Homo sapiens: one gene and its partners. The protein of the gene in region 2 interacts with the protein of the main gene of each other region in a biochemical or structural test. Each region holds a gene or a part of one and is shown on either strand. Other genes may lie near its edges.

Region 1 (7,031 bases), on a different chromosome or scaffold from region 2:
CTCTCTCCAGCACCAGCACCACTTTGCCATGTTCTTCCAGCCGCATGGTCTTTGCCTCCACATCCTGGAGAACAGGCCACATCCCATGCTCAACTCATGATGTTCCAGCTTTAGACCCTCTCATCTACCTCCTTCATTCCAGCCCCTGAGCCCCATGAGGGTCCCACAGGGACCCACAGCCCTTCTCCCACCTCCGACTTTGGCTCCACCTCCTCAGCCTTCCCTACCTTCCATGCATCCTGCCTCCCCCACAGCCTAGTCCCCCGCCCCCTGCATGCCCATCCTTCCCCTGGTCTCCCACACTGAGCCTGAAGTCACTGGTCTCACTGAACTCCTTCTGTGCCTTATGGGCTTCACCTTCTCACACACACCCAGGGCTATGGTCCCACTGCCAGCTGTCATAGCCCAGCATCTCTTACCTGCCCTGCTTCTTACAGGCCCTCTGCTCTGGTCCCTACTCCTCTCTCCACATCACTTCTCTGGACGAATGGCCCCTGCCCTCCCCAACCCCAGCAGCAGCACCTTGATGATACGGTTGAAGTCCTGCTTGTCCACACGCAGGAAATGACAGTTGTCTTCTCGCAGGATGATGGTGGCTGCCCGGGGTGCATCATTCACCAGAGCCAGCTGTCCAAAATCATCTCCCTCATGCAGGGTGGTCACCAGCCCCTGCAGCCAGGCCTCAGTCTCAGCCCGCCCCTGCCGCCCCTGCCGCCCCCAGCTCTTGCCAGGACAGACCCACGGCAGGAGAACAACCCACACAGGAGACACGGGGTCAGCAGCAGTAGATCAACAAAGGCACTGCCCATGAGGACATGGACCAGGGAGCAGTTAGGACCCAGGGCACTGGGGTGGGGAGGAGGGAGGGCTCACCTTGCCATGGGTCACCACGTTGACAGATCCCTTCCAGATAATGTACCACGAAGTGCCCTTGTCCCCCTGGCTGAACACTGACAGAAGCATACCTCAGACCGGGCCCTCCTGGCACCTACCATTCCTTCACACATCCTTCTGCCCATGTCCAGGCCCTGTGCCTGGCTTCTTATGCCCTGCTGGACTTACACACGGTCCCTGCCTTGCTGTGTGGTTCAAAGAGCAGAACAGCCGCTAATTCTCGCTTCACCTGTGTGGTGGAGATAGGAGAGTCGGTGGCGACAAGTTCATGTGCAGAGCAGCCAGGCTTTTGCTAGGGGTGTGGTTAGGTCCAAAGACACAAGTGCTGGGGGACAAAGATGTGGCCAGGTCAGGTGTTCCCAGGATTCAGCAGGAGACAAAGCAAGTGGAGAAAATGGGCTGAGAGAGGCGGAAGGATTTTCAGACAGGGCAGCGCCGGGGGCAAGAAATCAGACTGAAAATTTCCAGCCATAGATGGAAGTGGAGAAATGCCCTCTGGCCCAGCAGTTGGAGTTTCAGGGAAGTCACAGGAAGAGAAGATGCCTGGTACGGGGCAGGGCTGGGAGGGGCAGGACTGACCGAGTTGGAGAGGTGGGCCACAGCCTTGATGTGCAGCAGCTCCTCAAAGATGAGGTCCAGCTCTTCATCCGTGCGCTGACCTGGGCTGCAGGGACAGGAGGAATGGGAGCACACTGTGAACTGTGGGCCCGTCAGGTGCAGGGAGCCACTCCACCCACCCAGCCGATGCCTGTGCCAGACGGTGCCTCAGCAGTGACAGTTATCAGCAGCAGCTAACCTTTACTGAGTGCGCACATGTGGCAGCGCTTGTGATGAGCATTTTGCATGCATTGTTTCACAACAACCCTAAGGAGTGGTTCTATCATCCTCACTTGACAGAACAGGAACTAGCATGAGGAGGCTCAAGGTCACCCAGCCAGTAGCCAGTCCAGCTGGAATTTGAACCTGGACCCACCGGACTGCAGTTTCCAAAACCCACTTGCTTTCAGCCACAACTGTGTCTCTGAGTGGGAAGGGTCCTCAGAGATCCCCCTGGTCCAACATCCTCATCTACAGAGGAAGAAACTGACTTGGGGGGGTTTGGGAGTGTGGAGGGATCCAGGTCACACAGTGAGTCCGTGGCAGTCAGCGCCAGGGGCTTCTGGGCCAGCCAGGTTCCCTTCCCTCCACAACAGGTAAGGGATGCCCCCAGAGATCAATCTGAGAAACCGTGAAATCTGAGTGCTGTGTGAGGCCTGGGGTCACGGGGTGCAGGGATTCTGACTCACGGCTTTCGAAGTGCCACAGTGAGCAGGGCGTCAGGCCCCCGCTGGGAGAGCAGGGCCACAGCTTCGGCCAACTCCTCCTCCATCTCATGAGTTCTCACGGGCTCGGGCTCGGGCCCGGGGAACCGGTAGAATTGGGCATCTCGGTCCTGGAAGGCCCAGTCGTGTTTCACTGGGGGGCAGAGGCCCAGGCGTGGGGGAGGAGAGGAAATTGAGGCTATGTGGGTATGAAACCCCACTGCGATGCCACCCCTCAGCACTCCCCAAGTAGTGCCTGCTTCCCAGGACTGCCCTGTCCTGTCCCCCTCACTGCCCAGCCCAGCCCGGGGCACCCCACCCTGGGCTCGGGCTCACCATGGCAGAGGGCACCTTCATCCAGCAGCACCTGGCAGATTCCCACAACTTGGCTCCGGGAATGGACCCCAAGTCCCAGGGCCAAGATCCCATCCACCAGCTCCCGGCCAGAGCAGCACTGCCTATGGAAGGTAGAAGGGGACAGGCCAGTGGAAGGAGGGTGGCAGGGAGAGGGAGGAACTATGCATTAGAAAGGCACCCTCTGAGGCCCAAGCCTGGTTCGTCCCTGTGCTAGAAGCAGGGTGAGGCCCAGGTGCCTGACATAAAGTGGAACGGAGAGAAAGCAGTGAGGCTGGGCAAGGAGGCAGCAGGGCCTCCACTCACCGATAGAGCCTAAGGTGGTACTTCCGGTCTCGGATGAGGTTTGGGCAGGTGGCCAGCAGATGCCGATGCAGCTGCCTCCCAGCCCTGAGCACCCGCTCTGTGGAGGCCTTAGAGGGAGGAAGGGCACAGCAGTTCAGGCTCTGAACCCCTCATGGTGCTGCCTGTCCCAGCTCCACCCTGCCCAGGCTTCTACCTGCTCCAGGCTCTCGCTGAAATCCAGGGACTCCTCGCTGTTGGTGAGTGGTGTCTGGGGGCAGCAGGGAAAGCGTGCACATCAGTGTGAGGTCTTCAAGCCCAGCTCTTGGATACCTCCCCTCCCCCATCACTCCCACTCTTGCCTAGGCCCCAACCCCAAATGCATCCATGTGGCCACTCCTTCAGCAAATAAACAAATATTCACTCAGCACCCTGTGCCCCGGGCATCGCCTCTTCCCACCCTGCCATCCTGATCACCAAACCCAACTCAAGGACTGCCTCCCTACAGTTGAGAGCCCTAAGACACCCATTCTGCTTACTCAGGGCCCAGGTGTGCCCATGCCCCCAGGTGAACTGCCCCTGTTGGGGGAAAGAAGTGAGGGAGCTGGAAGGAGCATGAGGACATGAGATAAGAAGACCTGGGAGATGGGAGCCAGGATGTGAGCAGCTCAGGAGGCCTGGGAACATCCGCTCCTGGGCTGGGGTCACAGACCTGATCCCCAGCCAGGTTCTGTGTCCTTCCACAGGCCCATGAGCAGGTGTCTTGCCATCTCTGGGCCTCGGATCAGCCTGGTTGTCAAAACACAAACCCTGGAGCCAGGCTCCTGGATTAAAATCTCTGCTTCCCCACTGATGGCAGATGTGACCTGAAACAAATGATTTAACCTCTCCCTCCCTACCTGAGTCTCCTGAACTGTAAAATCTACAAAGCACTAATAATACCGACTCATGAGGTTTTGGGAGAATTAAATGAGTTGCTACACATCGAATGTTTAAAGCATTGCCTGGCATATAGTTGTATGCACATGTTAGCTAGTACTCATCTGTGAGGCATTAGGGTGGGGCTGCTTGCTGGAAAGCGTCTTTCTTCTCTGAGATGTTGCTAGCCTGTGCCCTGCGAGAGTGAATAAGTCCTTGGTGGCACACAGGACTGGCTCAGGAAGACGCACTTTATCATGGAAACACTGCTTAGTAAGGATTCCCTGCCCTTGGTAACAAGCCATTTGGAACTCCCGGGCCTGTACGCCCTGGAATAATGGCCATGAAAGCCCCTCACGACCCTTCTCTTCCTACCACCTGAGAATCTGGGGTTTGTGGACATCTCTGGACAGGATGCTCTACCATCTACGAGCCCTCTCAAAGGGCTCACTTTACAGTTTACAAAGCACTTTACAGTTTACAAAGCACAATCGCCCCCTTGATTTCATTGGATCTCATGTAAAATAGGATCAGATGTGAAATAGGCAGAGCAGGCATTGTCTGTCCTCTGTCACTTACAAGGAAATAAAAGCCTGGAGGTGAGGTACCTTGTGTAACTCAGTTGCGCATACTTCGGACAGCCAGACAGCTGTGGAGAAGTTCAAGTTCCCACCCAGAAGTGCTCCCATTCTCAGTCTCCCTACACCCACCCCACCTGCCCCTTTCCTCTCCCCTCACCAGCCACCTCTCTCCTAGCTTCCCATCTGGCTTCAGGTCCCTGAAAAGGACCTGCTGGGGAGTTGCAGTACAACCAGTCCTGGTGCTGGCAGGGCCCTGGGCACAGGCATCTTGGCACTGCGTGCCCAAGCAGAGGCCTGAGGTCTGGCATGTGCAGGCGCCTGGCCCAGGGCTGGGCGGAAGTCACTAGGTGTCCCAAGGGTATCCCTGCCCGGGTCATGGGGCCCAGCCCAGTGCCAGACACAGAGCCCTGGAGACTTAACGACAGGAAATGAGAAGGAGGAGGAGCCAGGGAAGGGAGGAAGGGCAGGAATGCTACCCAGCCAGCCCCCTGTGTCGGAACAAACAGTGCCTGAGTGCTAATGACTTGTTGTTCATATCAAAATGCCCAGGTGGCCCCAGTCCCTGCCCCAACTCCCATTGGAGCCCACAACCCAGGCTCCAGCACCAGCCCCCTTCCTGGTATTATTCTGACTTGGGAGAGGGCACATTAGGAGGGGTGGTGCTGGGTCACGTGGCCAGGTTGGTCATTTCCTGTCCTCCCCCAGGGGATGAGGATGCAGGTCAGAGAATGGCCCTAGTCCATGAGCACTGAGGAAGGGACTTTAAGGAATCCCTCTCATTTTGACAAGGAAAGCAAAAGCCCAGAGAGATCACACAACTATTTAGAAAGGTAAGATTCTACTGAATAACTCTGCTACTGGTGCTGACCCCAGAGGTAGGTATTTGTTTCCTATTTCACAGCTAGAGAAAAGAAAGCTCCAAGGTTCTATAACCTGCCCTAACTGTTGGTCAATAAGGGCACCAGGATTCATACCTATGTCTGATTCCAAAGGCCATGCTCTTAGCATTATGCCCTACCGTCTTCCATTATGCCTATTCCCATGTTTCCTCAGCTTTGTGCTATAGGCACAGACAGTAGAGGTATTCTGCCTTCAGGCAAGTTCTGTGGGCAAGTAAGTTTGGAAACCACTGGGTTAGACAAAGATAGACAGGTTTGTTATTCTACCCTCTCTGTGCCCCCAGGATGTTTGTGTGCCTGCCAACCTTCTAGGATGGGGCGGAGAGAGGGCTGCTATTCAAGGGCAGTGGTCAAGTGTGTAGGCTCTGCAGCCAGATGCTTGGGTTCAAATCCTAGCTTTTGCGTTACCATCTGGTTGTGTGAGCTCGTGCTGATTACTGAAGTTTGCAGTGCTTCGGTTTCCTCATCTGTAAACTGGGGTTGATGATATGAATAGTACCTATCACAAAGGGTTATGAGGATCAAAAAGTTAATAATATAAAGTACTTGGAATGGTGCCTGGATCATAGTAACTACTTAGTAAGTTTAGTTGACTTGATCAGATGTTATTATTTCATGATGGGCCCTATTACCAGGACACAGTGCAAAAAAATACAATGCTAGTCATGTCAGTTTCAGGGTTCTCAGTTGGGAAGAAGCAGCTGATATGAGTCAAGGTGAAGGTCCTCCTCACCCACTCCCCACTCTCATTCCTGAACAGAAAGGGTTCAGGGCGGAAGAGGAGGCACTAACTCCCCTGGCACCAGCACTGTGGCCTGCCCCACCCTCACTCCCTGTCACTGAATGTCAGAGCTGGGCTGGAGAGACAGGCACAGAGCCAGACAGCCTGGGGACCTGTCAGACCAGTTCCCTTGGGCCATAGCTAAGGTGTCAAGCTAGGGCTGCTTGTGGTGGGACAGGGGAAGGGTGCATGGGGCCGGGATGATGCCTTAAGGTGTCAGTGTTACTGTTCGTAGCAAGAGAGAAGTGCAGCATGGTGGTTATGTGGTTATGAGCTTGGACTCTGCAGCCAGATTGCCTGGGACCAAAGCCCAGCTTTGCCACTTAGCAGCTGCGTAACTCTGAATCTGTCACTTAACCTCTCTGTGGCTTTGTTTTCACATCTATAAAATGGAGATGATGACATTAGTACCTATCTCACAGGGCTGTTGTGAGAATTATTTGATATGATAAAGGCAAACCTCTTTCAATAATGTCTGGCACATAAGTACTGTATAACTATTAACTACTACTATTATTTGGATAGGTTGAATGAAAGTGCGTTCTCGGAGTTACAAAACAGGGCCACTTCCCCAAGAACAGTCACACAAAGAGAATCATCTCAGACTTCCCTGAGCTAGTAGAACCCACCACAGGTCACTCTGATCTTGCCCCTGCCCCCGGACATCAGACAAGATCTCACCTCCCCCTCTTATTTTCCAAAGATGTTCTTCCATCCCATTCCAGTGTCACTTTTGCAATAGCTGTTAAGTCTTATCTTAGTCTGTATCTAACTGCAAGCCCTCCTACTGTAACCCGCTTTCATTTTCTCTTGTCCTGGTCTAGGTAGGAACAGAAAGAGCTGTCTTCAGACTTCTTCTCTGGGAGGTTGATGGGTTTTCCCCTTGGCTTTCGAAGAGGGAGGTCTGGCCTCAATAACTGGCAGTGCTGTCTTCCTGGGACTCGGGCTCCACCCCTTCACCATGGGCGTGCATGCTCACAGCTGGCACTCATTCCCTCACGGAAGCCTTCCCTGGGCTAAA
Region 2 (7,000 bases):
GGCACTAAAGGAAATGAGATGGCCTGGGTGCAGTGGCTCACACCTGTTATCCCAGCACTTTGGGAGGCCAAAGACAGGAGGATCCCTTGAGTCCAGTTCAAGACCAGCTTGGACAATATAGTGAGACCCTGTCTCTACAAAAAATTAAAAAAAAAAAAAAGCTAGGTGTGGTGGTATGCACCTGCAGTAGCACCAGCTCCTCAGGAGGTTATGGTGGGAGGATTTCTTGACCCTGGGAGGTTGAAGCTGCAGTGATCTGTGTTCACACCACTGCACTCCAGCCTGGGTGACAGAGAGAGACCCTGTTTCAAAAAAAAAAAAAAAAGAGGAAGTGAGATGGATAAAGAAAAAAGTAGTGAGTAATGGAGGATAAGATGCTTGGAAATTAGATTAGAGAGGTATTATACTTATTGGTAATCACATAGCCTAGAGTAAAACCATGGTATGAATGCCTTAAAGGTAGGATGGACATCAAGGAAATGACAGGCCAAGCCAGGGTAGTAAATCATTTATAATATCCATATAGATTCTATATGGATAGTAAAATCACTAAGAATTCTGATTGAATCAGTGTATGTGAAAGAGAGAAAGCAAAAATCTTCAAAGTGTAAGGAGTGATTTTGAGACAAGATTATGCAGCTGTTTGTAAGGTTTTATGCAAGGTACTGGGGACACAAACAAGCAAATAGGCCTTATAACACAGCGTGTTGAGTGCTAGATGGGAGACAGACACGATATTGGATAGCACAAAGTAAAGATCTCTGTGATAGAGAACTTCCTTCTTACAATCTGGACAGAGAAAGAAGAATGCCCGTACACTGTGGATGTGATTTAAAAAAAAAAAAAGCAGAAAGTATTCATTTTAGCTATTAGGGTCTCTGGAAACAAAGGGGAATTCTGCTGATTCAGAAGCTAAAAACATTAGAGAGCAGGAGGGTGGGAGAGGGAGAGATAGCTTGATTCAGCTGATAGAAAATGTAGTTTCAGAAGGTCTTTACCAGAAGCTTGTTGTGAGGGCAAAGGTCCCTGATAAGAGTTAAGCCATTTTCCCAAAAAAGAATGGAAAAATACAGTATAATTAGTACTATATTGTTGTATAAAATCACTCCAATTTGCTTACATGCTTTTTTGAACTATCTGAAATGTTTCCATCATTTATAAAAATTATAGTGGAAAACTTTGTGCTGAATTTTAAACAACTTATCACATTTAAAAATGCCAGCCAGGTGCCATGGCTCACACCTATAATCCCAGCACTTTCAGAAGCAGAGCCAGGAAGAACACTTGAGGTCAGGAGTTCGAGATTAGCCTGGGCAACACAGCGAAACCACCTCTACAAAAAAAATTTTTTTATTAGCTGGGGGTGGTGGTACGTGCCTTTAATTCTAGCTACCCAGGAGGCTGAGGCAGGAAGACTGTTTGAGCCCAGGAGACTGCGGTGAACTATGATTGCACCACTACACCCTAGCCTAGGTGACAGAGCAAGACCTCGTCTCTTAAGCAAAACAAAAAACGAACCCATCCATTTTAAAGCTAAGAATTGCCTAATGTGTCAAGTCTATGTGCATGGAGAAAAATAAACAAAGAAAAGCAAAGATTGCTTAATGTATGTATTTTATGTGGCAGTATAACTGGAAACCATCAGTTATTAATAAAAATTATAAAGGTGATGGTATTAATGAAGAAGAATAAAAGCAAATACACAATTCCATACTGTGTAACAGACATTATGCCTAATGATTTATAATTATTAACTCATTTGCTTATCACAAACACCTTATGATGTACTAACATCATTATACTCATTTAAAGATTAGAAAAAGGAGGCTCAAAATAATTCTAAATCTTCTGAGGAAGATTTTTGCCTTCCTCAGAAAACATGTATCTGTCACCAGCCCCTTGAGATGTCAAAATGCTAGTGAAAAGAAAAAATTATAAAAATTAATGACTATGGTGCCAAGAGACAAGGTCTTATTTAAACCCATAGAAATACAAATATTAACTAAAGCTCTAAATTTAAAATAAATTTTAAAAAATCACTGACAGCATAATCCTTACCTCAATGTAGGAAGAAACCCAACACACAGATTATTACAGGTGAACTTTGTGATATGTGAGCATGAACTACATCAGAGTTGATTTCATATACTTAAGAATCCCTATGTTCAGAGAATTTCTTCTTAATCAGAATGATTACTTTTACTCAGAATTATCTGGATGACAAAACCTACTCAGATGACAAAACCTGCTCACAAATTAAAATCTATCAAAAAAAGAGAAAACATCCTTACTGTCCCTGCAGTATCCAGGATTTCGAGCATACACTGTTGGCAATCGACTTCAACTTGCTGTGGGGGCAAAAAAAAAAAAAAGGTTAAAGAGTAACATCAAAATCTCATTCTGTTTTCTTCCCACCTCTTCCATCAAAGTAACTATTAACAAATACAAAGCCTGTCTCCAGCAGTATGCTGTAATGGCTGGGGGTAAACTTGGTACCACAATAAAGAACAGCGGTCTCAAGTACAGTCTATTCATATTACAGAAGCCAAGATGGTTAATGCTGAGTTTAGATATTTTCTGACCTCTGTAACGATTCTTATTTGTTATTAGAAAAGGCAAAAGTCATATTTTGAAATTTAAGGAAAACTTCAACGAACAAGTATAGTTCTAACAGAAAAAAAAGTACATATGTGTATTTATATTATCTCCAAAGAAAACAAAGTACAAAAATATTAAATGGCTCAAAATGCGCACAACATTTTGGGGTAAAGAAAATCTTGCCAACTTACCATGTTCAAGTTGTTAAAATTTTACTAAAATATGCAGAAAATTAAATACACAGTAAAATCTGAGTTTAAGACATAAAAGAAACACAGGAGTACTAAAATAAACAGCAATGAGCTAAAACAGTGCCTCAAGAAAAAGGCACTTTTCTAGAAAAGCTCTATGTGAAAGGTGAAATTTTATACACTGAGTTCTATTTACCCATTGGTCTTATAAAAGAAAAGAAGGTTGGTCTAATGAAAGTATCAACTATCAACTGTGTGGAAAACTGTTTTAATAAAGAAGGGATTAAGAAAAGTTAGTCCCTTAGAATTTTAGGTACAGATCTTGCTTTGCAGTTAAAGCTTTAACTAGCAACTTACTTTGGGGAAATTTCAGTAGAGCAACACTGTCTTCTAAAAATAAATGTGCTAACCTAAAGACTATTTTAAACTCTGCTTCTGTGTCAGATCAGACATTGATGAGGGGCACCACTGGTCAGACCACAAACTCATCCACCCCACCACTTATGGGACAAGTGTGATAATCTGCAAAATTTGTAACTGGGAATGTTCAGTGAATAATCAATTAGGACTATAGTTTCTTGATGTATCTAGAGCATAATTCTGTTTCCAATTTGAAGACAATGAAACTGCTCTACTAGTAGTCCTTCATGAACTAACAAATTAATTCAACAAAAGTTACAGCACTATTAAAGGTAAATTCTAAAAATGTCTTCAAAAGCAATCCTTTCCTATTAAAGTTTAATCTTTTTAAAAAATATTCTTGGCTACTAGCCTTTTATAACCTCCACCCCACCCAATATATTTGACATAGAAAATACTGAAAATTTTCCACAACTCTGGCTGGTCTTCTACAGAATATTTTTTGTCAAGACCAAGTACCTAATTTTTTTTCCCTTTTAAATAGACTTTATTAGAGCAGTTTTAGTTTCACAGCAAAACTGAGGGGAAGGTGCAGAGATTTCCCACATACTCCTTGCCACCACAAATGCATAGCCTCACCCCACCATCAACATCCTGCACCAGAGTGGTACATTTGTTACAACTGATGAACCCACATGAACACATCGTTATCACCAAGAGTCCACAGTTTACATTAGGATTTTCTTTTGGCATGGTACATTCTATGGGTTTTGACAAATGTATGGCATATAACCCAATTATAGTATTACACAGACTCTAATTTTTTGGTAGTCTAAAGATATCTTTAAACTTATAAAACTAAACAAAAATAAAAATGTTCAGTCACTGGATAACTTCAAGCATAAAGGTGGTCTTAATTGTTGGTAACAAAAGAGTAAGTTGAAAACACACCTACTATTTATATGCAATTTTTTCATATGTGGCAACATTCCCCACCAGGAAAATGTCCACATTAAGGAACAAGTCACTAATCAGTAACAGAACATAGAGCTCTGAATATCAAAGTAGTATTCTGTTAAGAAATGTTCTGTCTTGATGAAACTTTTAAAAACAGATGCACAATATTTGTATTATTTCTCAAAACTATTTTCAAAAAGCAAATCTACAGATCAAATTTTAACATCATAAGGAACTACTTGTAAGCATGTGTGTACAAGTTTCACATTTTACCTTTCTGTAGGAATCTTCTATCGTTGGGTCATATTTTTCAACAAAAATTCCCTGAACAAACTGAACTGTCTGGGGGAAAAAAAAAGAGAAATATTAAAAAATTAAAGGAAAACTCCTTTGAATGTTACTTAACCTACAAATTATAATGATTAATTGAAATTATGTGAAAATTCTGGGTAAACACGTAAATGTAAAGTATATTATTAATTCTTTCAATATAAGGATACATCCATAACTAAGAGTACATTTATTATGAAAGGAGGTAGTCATGTTAAAAACTGTCATCAATACTGATAATACACTGTTAATTACATTAAGTCTTAATATACAAGGATACAAATAACATATCTGAACTAATTAAAACATGAAAAATTATCAATATTTAAACTCCTATTGCCCCTTTATATATCTATAGTAACTTTTATCCCATGCCCTCTGCCCTTAATGGAGTGACAAAGGTTCTAATTTTTTTTTAAACACAGGGTCTTTGCTATGTTGCCTGGGCTGGCCTTGAACTCCTGAACTCAAGAGATCCTCCCGCCTCAGCCTCCCAGGTAGCTGGACCTCAAGCAGCATCTTGTAAATTTGTTAAAGCCTTTCTAAATTGTGGTGGAAAAGAGAAAGGGAAATTTAAACTTACTGAATGTCTATTATGTTCCAGACATTAAGCTAGTCACTTTTAATTTATAACCACATTCAAATTTCACATTTGTCCCAGAAATAGTTATTCTTCCTATTTGCCAGCTGAGATTCAAACATACATCTTCCTGATTCCAAAGCCTTACTTTTTCCATTGGAAAATATTGCCCATTCATCTTTTTCAGATATTATCAACTTTTAAAGGCATCCAAAAGCACATACTAGAAAATACGTATTTATCATTCAGTAAGTGAAAAAAGTACAGAAGACGGTTTTAAGATATTTCCTAGGTAACTTTAAAACAGGGTCTGGTACATTATTGCCTAAAAAGCAAGGGTAAGAATGTGGACTGAGGTCATCTACACTTAAATTACTCAGAGGAATATTTGATATACTATTTTAGCTTGAGCTAAAGAGATTAACTCAAATATAGTAAACAAACTTCTTTCTCCTACTAAGCTTCTATTATTCAAAGGCAACTCAAGATATAATCACACCAAAAACCTTAATCATGATTTTTATCAAGGATTTAATCACCTCATCTTCTAAGTACGACACATAATTTAAATATACAAAGCAGTCTACGCTGGATGCAGTGGCTCATGCTGTACTCCTAGCACTTTAGGAGGCCAAGGCAGGAGGATTGCTTGAGCTCAGGAATTTGAAACCAACCTGGGCAACATAGTGAGACTGTCTCTACAAAAAATTTAAAAATTTAACCAGGTGTGGTGGCATGCACCTGTAGTCCCAGCTACTTGGGTAGCTAAGGTGGGAGGATTGCTTAAGTGTAGGAGGTTGAAGATGCAGTGAGCCATGATCACGCCACTGCACTCCAGGGCAAGATGCTGATTCAAGATTTAAAAAAAAAAAAAAGGCAGTCTAATACAGCTTCCTAATATGCTTTAGGCTAGAGCAGAGAGTCTCAAAATATGGTCCAAGGCAGAGGCTCCCTAAGGTCAAACTATCTTCCTAACAATACTAAGATGTATTCTAAGAGGTACTCTTCTTCTTCTCTCATAAGTTTACAGTGGAATCTTCCAAAGGGTATAGAACATGTGCTATTGAAAGAGACTGGATACAGAAGCAGGCAAAAGAGCCCATGTGCCTTCTATAAGCCAGACATTAATAAGACTTGCAAAAATGCAAAACAATCCAACGTTTCTCATTTCTTTCTTACTAAAAGTAATGTTTGACTACTCCTCTGAATCTTATCCTCTGTCTTAATTTTCAGGGACATCTCATTCATTCATTCACATAGATTATAATTTTATTCCTCAGGTTTTTGTACTGGATCATCTCCTCTTTCCCTCTCCTGTATCCTTATTTTCCTCTCCAGTGGAGAGGAATTGCCCCCAGCATACAAATATGCTTTACTATCTCCAATTCTAAAACAAAAACAAAAACCTCCCTTAACCCCAATATCTCTCCAGCTTCTGCCCCCATTCTCTGTCCCCTCTCATAATCAAGCTTCTTCAAATGTCTATATTCCATTTCCTCAGCTCTCATTTAATCTTCAACCCACCCCATTATGGTTATGGCAACATGACCTGACTAAAGCTGCTTCCTTTATCATGTCCAACTGCCTCTATGCTCTCTGATCATCTCTTTCCTCTTTTTTACTTGACTTTTGAGGAATCAAGTAAAGACACCTTCTTCTATGCTAGATCCTCCAATCCTATCTACTTTCTAAAGGTTGAGAGGTACTCAGAGCTCAGTCCTGGGCTCTGCTCTTCTCTCTCTAGTATCTCCCTAGACCTCTTTCACTCCTATGGACTTTTTCCAAAATTATTTTTGAAAAGGTAATTCATGGACATAGGACTAAATTCAAAAAGGCACAAAAGGCTATGCAGTGATAACTAAGCTTATCTACCACCCTTGTTCCCAGCTATCCAATCCTACTCCCAAGAAAGTAACTGATGTTATTCATAGCTTATTTAACCTTGAAGAGATACTCTATGATTTTACAGGTATCTACCCTCAGC
Region 3 (7,507 bases), on a different chromosome or scaffold from region 2:
TATTCTACACAACTGGCAGGGGAACAGGAAAGTTTAACAGTTCATTTATTTGGCACAGTGGGCCCACAGTCACAGTGGAGGTTTTGTCTCTTCTAGTCTTGTTTGGTGACCCGCCCCCCAACCTGATAGTAGGTTTTAGTCATTGTTATTCTTCTAACTAATCAACCAAATGCACCACTTCCCCCTTCTCTAATTTCCACCAAAGGCCTCTGACATCATTTTCTGACCAGCCTTGCTAGGTTCTAATATTCTCAGCATGCGTAATTTCACTTGGCACTTAAAACAATATTCTTGAAAGGAAATGAAATATCTCACTGAAATCTGCTTTTCCTTCACACTGAGACAGGGAATGTGCATTTTCAGATGCAGAAGACTGATCCAACTGACCATTTTAAAACAAATAGATGAGAAAGGCATAGGAAAGGCAGCGTGTGCAACACCAAGAGAAGAACAAGATCAATGCAGGACATTCCTTGTTGGGATAAAAATAGTCTTTTAGAATGGGAACTTTCTGGAGACAGATAAATTTTCTTGTAAAATTACAGCCATCTTCCACACGTTTGATAAATATGTGCAATCTATCCATGATCTCCCAGATGTGACAGCTCCATCAAGGAAAATGAAAAATCAAAAACGGTACCAGGTGCCACTCTTGGGGCTTGTCCAAAGGCAGCCAGGGGAAGAGTCTATTTTATTATGCTCTCCCCACAGTAAATAATAATCAACATCAGAGAAGGAGAGCATTTGGATTTGAACAGATGGCATCCAACATCTAACAAGCGAAGCAACACTTTCAAGCATTAGATCCTAAATGTCTGATGGTCCCAAGGATCAGGAGGGCTTATTTGTCTTAAGAGGGTTGGCAGGCAGGATCTCCTATAGTCACCATCCCAACGCTTAGGAATATGCGTCATTATCCAGTCAGCAACTAAAGGCGGAGAAAATTAAGCTACCACATTTTTATAAAATTTCCCCCTCTCCAGTAAAACTTGAGACAACCAAATCCAACCCTATCAGCCGCTATAAGTAAGAGAAGAGTAAGCCTGCAGGTAAACAAATGTATAAAGGTTAACAAACTTATCTAATTTTGACAAGGTTGTGCAACACCAAAAGAATCCGCAGGGTGCCCTTCCCGAGGGTGTACTGGAACATGCCTGCTCTGCAGCTATGTCTGCAATTTAAACTAAAAGCACTAACTTAGCTATTCAACTTTTTTTCCCTTCAATTGAAAGCAGTATCCTTTAAAAAATAAAAGCAAAACAGTAAACATACAAACACCTCAATGTTTTACTGAAGGTCAGCATGGATTTGTCTTTAGCACAACCGTACAGGTTTCCTCCTATACCTTTCAAACACCACTGAACTCCAAGGGTCACTTGCAAGGGGAGGAACGGATCTGGAGTCAGAGGGAGCAAGAGTCGCTGCCCGAGGGGAGATGAGACTCCATCCCCTGAGATTCAGAGGCCACGGAGGGCGGCTGGGGAGAGGGAAAGCTAGAGAATTCACACATTCACACACATACACACACACACACACACTCTCTCTCTCTCTCTCTCTGTCTCTCCCTCTCTCTCTCTCTCTCTCTCTCTCTCTCTCTCTCTCGGCTGGGCAACATAGTGGGAAAGGTCAGTCATGGGGAGGGAAGAGTTAAGGAGCAGAATGTCAAGGAGAGGGAAAAATAAAACCAGGATAGGCGGAGTAAAAGACTCGGAGGTGGGATGCCTTTGGAAGTTGGGGGTCCTGATGCAAGAAGTGGGGTGCTCGGGGCGAACTGTGTCAGGAAGGAGGTGGGGGGACAGGGGAAGACGCAGCCTGCGAGGCAGAAATCCGGCCAAGGGCAGGCGGCCGCCGCGTTCTCACCTGGGGGGTCCTTTCGGGGGGATTCTTCATCACCGCCTGGCGGAAGCTGTTATCTACGTAGGACGCCATCTCCCCTCTGGGAGCGGGCCGGGGCCGCTCCGCACCCTGGCCGGCCTCCTCCCGGCCCAGCGCCGCTGCTGCCTCCGCCCTGCGCGCTGCGCCCGCCCGCCCGCCCGCGACTAATCAGCCAAACCGCGGCGGCGGCGGCGCGGGGCCCGCGGGGGGGCGGCTCGGCTGGGCCCGGCGGCCGAGAGCGCGGTACAGGCGCGAGGGGCTGGACGCAGCCGGGAGGGTCGCGGCGCCCCTAGGCTGCCGTGCGATGCGGCCCGCAGGCGGAACTCCCCTTCCTCCTCCTCCTCCTCTTCCTCGCCGCTCCGCCGGCTTCCTCCGGCCCTGGCTCGACACGCCTCCCCGGCTCCACTCGGGGGACAGTGGCGGCTCCTCCTGGCCCCAGCGGGCCCGAGTTATTTTTAGGGAGGTACGAGTGGCAGTGGGGAGGGCTGTGGGCAGGCGGAGCCTCCTCCCCCACGGCGCTGAGGGTCGCCCCCTCCTCTCAGGGGCTTGCGCAGCCGCCGCCCAGGGGTCTCCGAGAATCACTTGGATCTTCCGCGTCCCCAGTCCTCGGGCGCCTCGGCCGCCGGTCGGGAGGACGGACCAGGTGGGTCTGGCTCAGGTCCGGGCGCTGCGAAGCCCGATCGCCTCGGCCGCCGCTCCTGGTCTCTGTCTACTGGGCTCGGCCGTCCCTCCCGACTGCTGCTGCATCCCCTCGGGCCGCCCAGCCGCCGCCGCCGCCGCCTCTGCTGCTCGGGCCGCCGCTGTGGGCTCCGCCGCCGCCGCCTCCCCCCATCAGCGCGCCCGGAGCGGAGCTGCCCCGGCGCCGGCGCCGCCGCGGCCAGAGCACCCGGCCCGGGCTGCAGCCCTCCGGCCCAGTCGCTCTCGGCAACTTTGTTCCTCGTCTGCGCGGGGCGGAGGAGGGGGAAGAGGGGGCCGCGGACAGCCCGGGTTCGGACTCCCGGCGCGGGCGTCCGAGGGCCGAAAGCCGAGAGCCGCGCACAGCCCCCTCGGAGAGAGTGTTTGGGAAGCGGCGATTCCCCTCCTCTTCCTCCGCCTCTTCCTCCTCCTGCGCCTTCTCCGGCCGCCGGAGCCGCTCCTCAGGGAGGAAGCGGCCTCTGGGGCTTGTTGCTTTGTGCTGCAACCATGGTGAGGAATGAGTGACAGCGTGGGGGCGAGTCGGCGGCCGCCGCATCATCGGGGGGCGGGGCAGCCCCGTCGCGCCGGGTCCCGCCTCCCCGCTCCCCGCCCGCCAGCGGCCGCGCCCTCGCGTCTGAGCGGCACCTTCGGCGGCGCCCAGGTGAGCAGCGCTCTGGCCGCAAGTGGGTCGCGGAGCCCTCGGCCGGGCTGTCGGGTCCCGCGCGCGGCCTGGACCCGAAGAGGGGGCGCAAGTCCTGGTGCCCCGGAGAGAAGCGCAGGGCTTTCCTCACGCAGTGTCCCCCACTGTCTCACGCCGCGCCCCCTCCCCACACCCGACGCGCCCTACTAGGAGACCCAGCCGCGTCGGGTCGCTGCTCCCCGCCCGCTCCTGGCGCCACGCCGCCGCCCAGGGGCTGAAAGCTAACCTTGGGCAAAAGACCGGCCCACCAGCCCGGGCTGTACTGGGCATTCTTTTTGAGCCCAAGAGTTGCGTCCGAGTTGCTTCTGTGGCGATAAATCCTCTTAGGATTTATTTTGCTTATTTGTAATTTGCTGCACCCTCCCCTGCTTTCCAAGCCCACTCTGGCACCTCAGACAGTAAAATGACCACGAAATTAGGCAGAGAGGTTTCAACACCAGACCCACTACCACCCCTAGACCAACAAACACTCCAGATTTAAAGTTGATCACTCCTTAGCGACAGACCAGGATGGCAAGTTCTGTGACATAATCAGAAACATTTATTGGTAGGTCTGGCTTTGCCTTGGACAGAACAAGCCTCCTCCTCTAGATGCTCAAATTTCCAAACCGGACCCACATGGTGCAGAAACAATACCTCGTCCTTCAAGATGTCACCGCTCCTGCTGATTCCCTCAGCTCCCCCCCACTCCTTGCCCCGGCCACGTAGAGGTGTGTTAAGGTCAGCCCAAGCATCGGGGACCACTCTGCTGTTCTGGTCCCAGGGATTTATTTTTGTTTGCCCCCACCCCCCACAAGTTCTTATTTTGATATCTATAGACACAATGAGTTTTATGTATGAGCTACTGCGTTGAACTTTTCAAACATGATTTTCAACATCTAGTTTAAACACTTGGAATAGATTGTCAGCTAACATTTTGGGGTTCCTTAAGTCACCTGTGTGCACTAAACAGCTTGTGTGACTTCCTAGCAAAGGGACTGTCCCTGCCCAACCTTGTGAAAGGGAATCTGAGTTACAAATTGTATCTGTAGACCTTTTTATATTACTCTTGCTGGAACTGCTTCTCTATATTTCTCTTTCACCTCTTAGTTGAGCGCCAACATCAAATTCTCTATGACATAGGCCACTACCTTGAAAGCAAAGGAACATGAATAAGTGCCAATACAGCTCTGAAAAAAGGAGAGAGGCAGATAAAAGAATTCAAACCCAATGAAGTGAAAAAATATAACTGACATCTCCACCTGGTGTCTAATAGACATCTCAGAATTCACATGTGCAAACCAGGCTCCAGATCTCCTGTCTCAGACACCCACAGCCTTCCCCATCCTCTGTTAATCACATCTACACCATTCTCACTTCCTGGGTGAAAACGTTGACTTCCTTGACTCCTTTCTTTCTGTTATACCTCAAAAGTGTCAGTAAAAATCGTCAGCTCAACCTCCAGAATGCCATATCTGAACTCTAACCTTTATCTACCACTTCTACTGCCATGACCCTGGTGCAATCCAGCATCATGTCTGGCCAGCACTTTGTCATAACCACCCACCTGGTCCCCCTCTTTCTAACCTTGCTTGCCATACAGTTCATTTCCAACACAGCAGCCAAAGTGTGAATTCTTTTCACTCCTTCTCAAATCATTCCTCTGCTTAGCTCCTCATACCACTCAAGGTAAAAGCCAAAGTCTTACCATGGCCTGAATATCCTATGGACCTTTATCTCTCTGACCTCTTCTACTATTCTGTTCCCAAGCACATTAGCCTCCATGTTGTTTCTGAAACAGCAAATTCCAGTCTCATGACCTTTCCATCTGCTGTTCCCTCTACTGCCTGGATTATCTCTCCCCCTCTCCCCACCCCACTTGCACCCACAAAAACAAAAAACAAAAAGAAAAATGCACACACACAACAACCAAAATATAGAATGTTGTTCCTCATTGTCATCATATCTTCATTTGAATGTCACCTTCCCTGTAACTCCATACACTCTGGTTATCTTCGTCGCTTTACTTACCACCTAACATACTGTATATTGTACAGGTGCTTGCCCACTTAGGATGGGGTTACATCCTGAGAAACCATTGTAAGTCGCAAATATTGTAAGTCAGAAATGCATTTAATACCCTGATAAACCCATTATAAAGTGGAAAAATCGAAAGTCAATTTATTGACCATCGTAAATTGAGAACCATCTATACTTATTTATTTTATTTATTGTTTTATCCCTCCACTGTAATGTAAGCTTCTAAGTCAGGGATGTTTGTCCCTTTTATTTACTGCTATATCCTCAACACAAGACAGGCAGCCAACAAATAGGTATTAAATGGATACATGAAGTAGTTCATGTTACCTTGTATTTGTATGAGATTTTTACATACATTATCTCACTTGTGTCCCTGGTTGCGGGGAGAAAACTGGGAGAGGAAACTTAACCTCTCTGAGCCTGTTTTCTGTTTTATAAAAAGAGAGTACAAATTGAATAGTCTGGCCAGGCAAAGTGGCTTACACCTGTAATCCCAGCACTTTGGGAGGCTGAACCAGGAGGATAGCTTGAGGCCAGGAGTTCAAGACCAGCCTGGTCAACATAGCAAGACCACTGGCTGCACAAAAACTTAAAAAAAAAAAAGGAGCGGGGCATGGTGGGGTGCACTTGCAGTCCTAGCTACTCAGGAGGCTGAGGTGGGAGGTTATCTTGAGCCCCGGAGTTCAAGGTTGCAGTGAGCTATGATCACACCATGGCACTCCAGCCTGGGTAACAGAGCAAGACCCTGTCACAAAAAAAGAAAAAGTTGCATACCCTGAAGATTTGTGACGATCCAAGATAATACATGCAAAGTGCCTTGCATAGTGGTTTAACAACAGTATATACTCAATAAATGGTAGTTATATTTAAGATTATTCTCATCATTGCAACTCTCTGAGGCTAGTGGGACAGTGTTATCTTATTTACAGATGAAGAACTGACACTAAAATAGGCTACATGACTTGTCCTAGTTCCCGGACTGCCTTTAACTTTAGAAAGTTCTGGAGCCAGCTAACAAATGGGGATCCATATACTCTATCATAAATACTAAAAGCTACAAATTAACTGGGGGAGTACTGAGTACTACTGCAGGGAGTACTGGTATCTGGTCTGCAACTGGAATCCCCTTTTCTTTCCATCTCAGCTTCATCCTATCCCATGGAAAGGCTCACACATAAGAGGACAACCCAGCTAGTGCGGTGGCTCATGCCTGTACTAATTCCAGTACTTTGGGAGGCCGAGGTGGGCAGATCGCGAGGTCAGGAGTTCCAGACCAGCCTGACCAATATGGTGAAACCCTGTCTCCACTAAAAATACAAGAATTAGCCTGGCGTGGTGGCGTGTGCCTATAGTCCCAGTTATTCAGGAGGCTGAGGCAGAAAATTTGCTTTTACCTGGGAGGTGGAGGTTGCTTGCAGTTAGCTGAGATCAAGCCACTGCACTCCAGCCTGGGTGACAGAGTGAGACTCCATCTCAAAAAAAAAAAAAAAAGGACAAGGACAACCCAGCCTACACATCTAAGTGATATCACACCCCTCAAAAAAGCCACCCCTTGGTGATTCCTCGGGCCAGGGGCCAGCCTTGGAAGATGAGGTCTGGAAGTGGCAAGGCAGTCAGGACCAGGGTTCCAGGTGCTCAGAGAGTATGGAACTCCTTGCCCCATGGGGAGGGGGGATGCTAGAGGGGACCTTCTACACCAGACAGGAATGCCTCTCTGCCAGATCTCACAGCAAGAGTTAGGAATTCCAGTTGCACACCCAAGTCTTTTTTCTCTGTGTGCTCTACTGTAACACTGAATTACATCAATCACCTCAGGTAAGACATAATAGTATGTCTTATCCACCAACAAAATGACTAACTCACTGTCAACTTCTAAGCTATCATTTAACTTCAATTAAAGCTAATTTTCACACTATGTATAACCTACTTATCTACATATGTCAATAATGCATATCACCACTCAGCATCTAGGACATCAGATACTTGGCATGCATTGCTGTTTTATTAACATTTGAGCACCAGTAATGTGCTAGGCACAACCTGGAAGACAGAATTAGACAAAGATCTGCCACTCTGCCAATTAGTCTAAACCAAACTGTGTCAGCAAACCATAATCAAAGTAAGCTATCTATTATGCTGCCTCATAAAGGCAAGTGTAAAAATGAGAGTTTCTTTGTTCTGTTTCTACTACCATCATATTATCTAGAAAATCACTGGGGGATGGGAAGAGAGACAGAG

The links.
Region 1: of the proteins of RAP1A (region 2) and RAPGEF3, one has a biochemical effect on the other in vitro, tested with the Homo sapiens proteins (one study listed by BioGRID).
Region 3: the proteins of RAP1A (region 2) and RAPGEF2 form a complex in vitro, tested with the Homo sapiens proteins (2 studies listed by BioGRID and IntAct, with this or other methods).

Annotation. Positions count from the first base shown.
Region 1 is NC_000012.12:47,748,868-47,755,898, forward strand, and holds part of RAPGEF3 (rap guanine nucleotide exchange factor 3), read right to left. Parts: coding exon of another isoform or gene 6,982-7,031; exon of another isoform or gene 6,835-6,981; intron 5,161-6,834; exon of another isoform or gene 5,067-5,160; intron 3,103-5,066; coding exon 3,049-3,102; intron 2,963-3,048; coding exon 2,856-2,962; intron 2,654-2,855; coding exon 2,532-2,653; intron 2,395-2,531; coding exon of another isoform or gene 2,350-2,394; coding exon 2,181-2,349; intron 1,559-2,180; coding exon 1,474-1,558; intron 1,124-1,473; coding exon 1,063-1,123; intron 951-1,062; coding exon 874-950; intron 670-873; coding exon 523-669; intron 65-522; coding exon 1-64. Other genes in the region: SLC48A1 (heme transporter HRG1), read left to right, coding at 6,982-7,031. UniProt on the Homo sapiens protein: Guanine nucleotide exchange factor (GEF) for RAP1A and RAP2A small GTPases that is activated by binding cAMP.
Region 2 is NC_000001.11:111,692,789-111,699,788, reverse strand, and holds part of RAP1A (ras-related protein Rap-1A precursor), read right to left. Parts: intron 4,449-7,000; coding exon 4,380-4,448; intron 2,349-4,379; coding exon 2,292-2,348; intron 1-2,291. UniProt on the Homo sapiens protein: Counteracts the mitogenic function of Ras, at least partly because it can interact with Ras GAPs and RAF in a competitive manner. Together with ITGB1BP1, regulates KRIT1 localization to microtubules and membranes.
Region 3 is NC_000004.12:159,098,585-159,106,091, reverse strand, and holds the start of RAPGEF2 (rap guanine nucleotide exchange factor 2), read right to left. Parts: upstream 3,014-7,507; 5' UTR 1,930-3,013; coding exon 1,861-1,929; intron 1-1,860. UniProt on the Homo sapiens protein: Functions as a guanine nucleotide exchange factor (GEF), which activates Rap and Ras family of small GTPases by exchanging bound GDP for free GTP in a cAMP-dependent manner.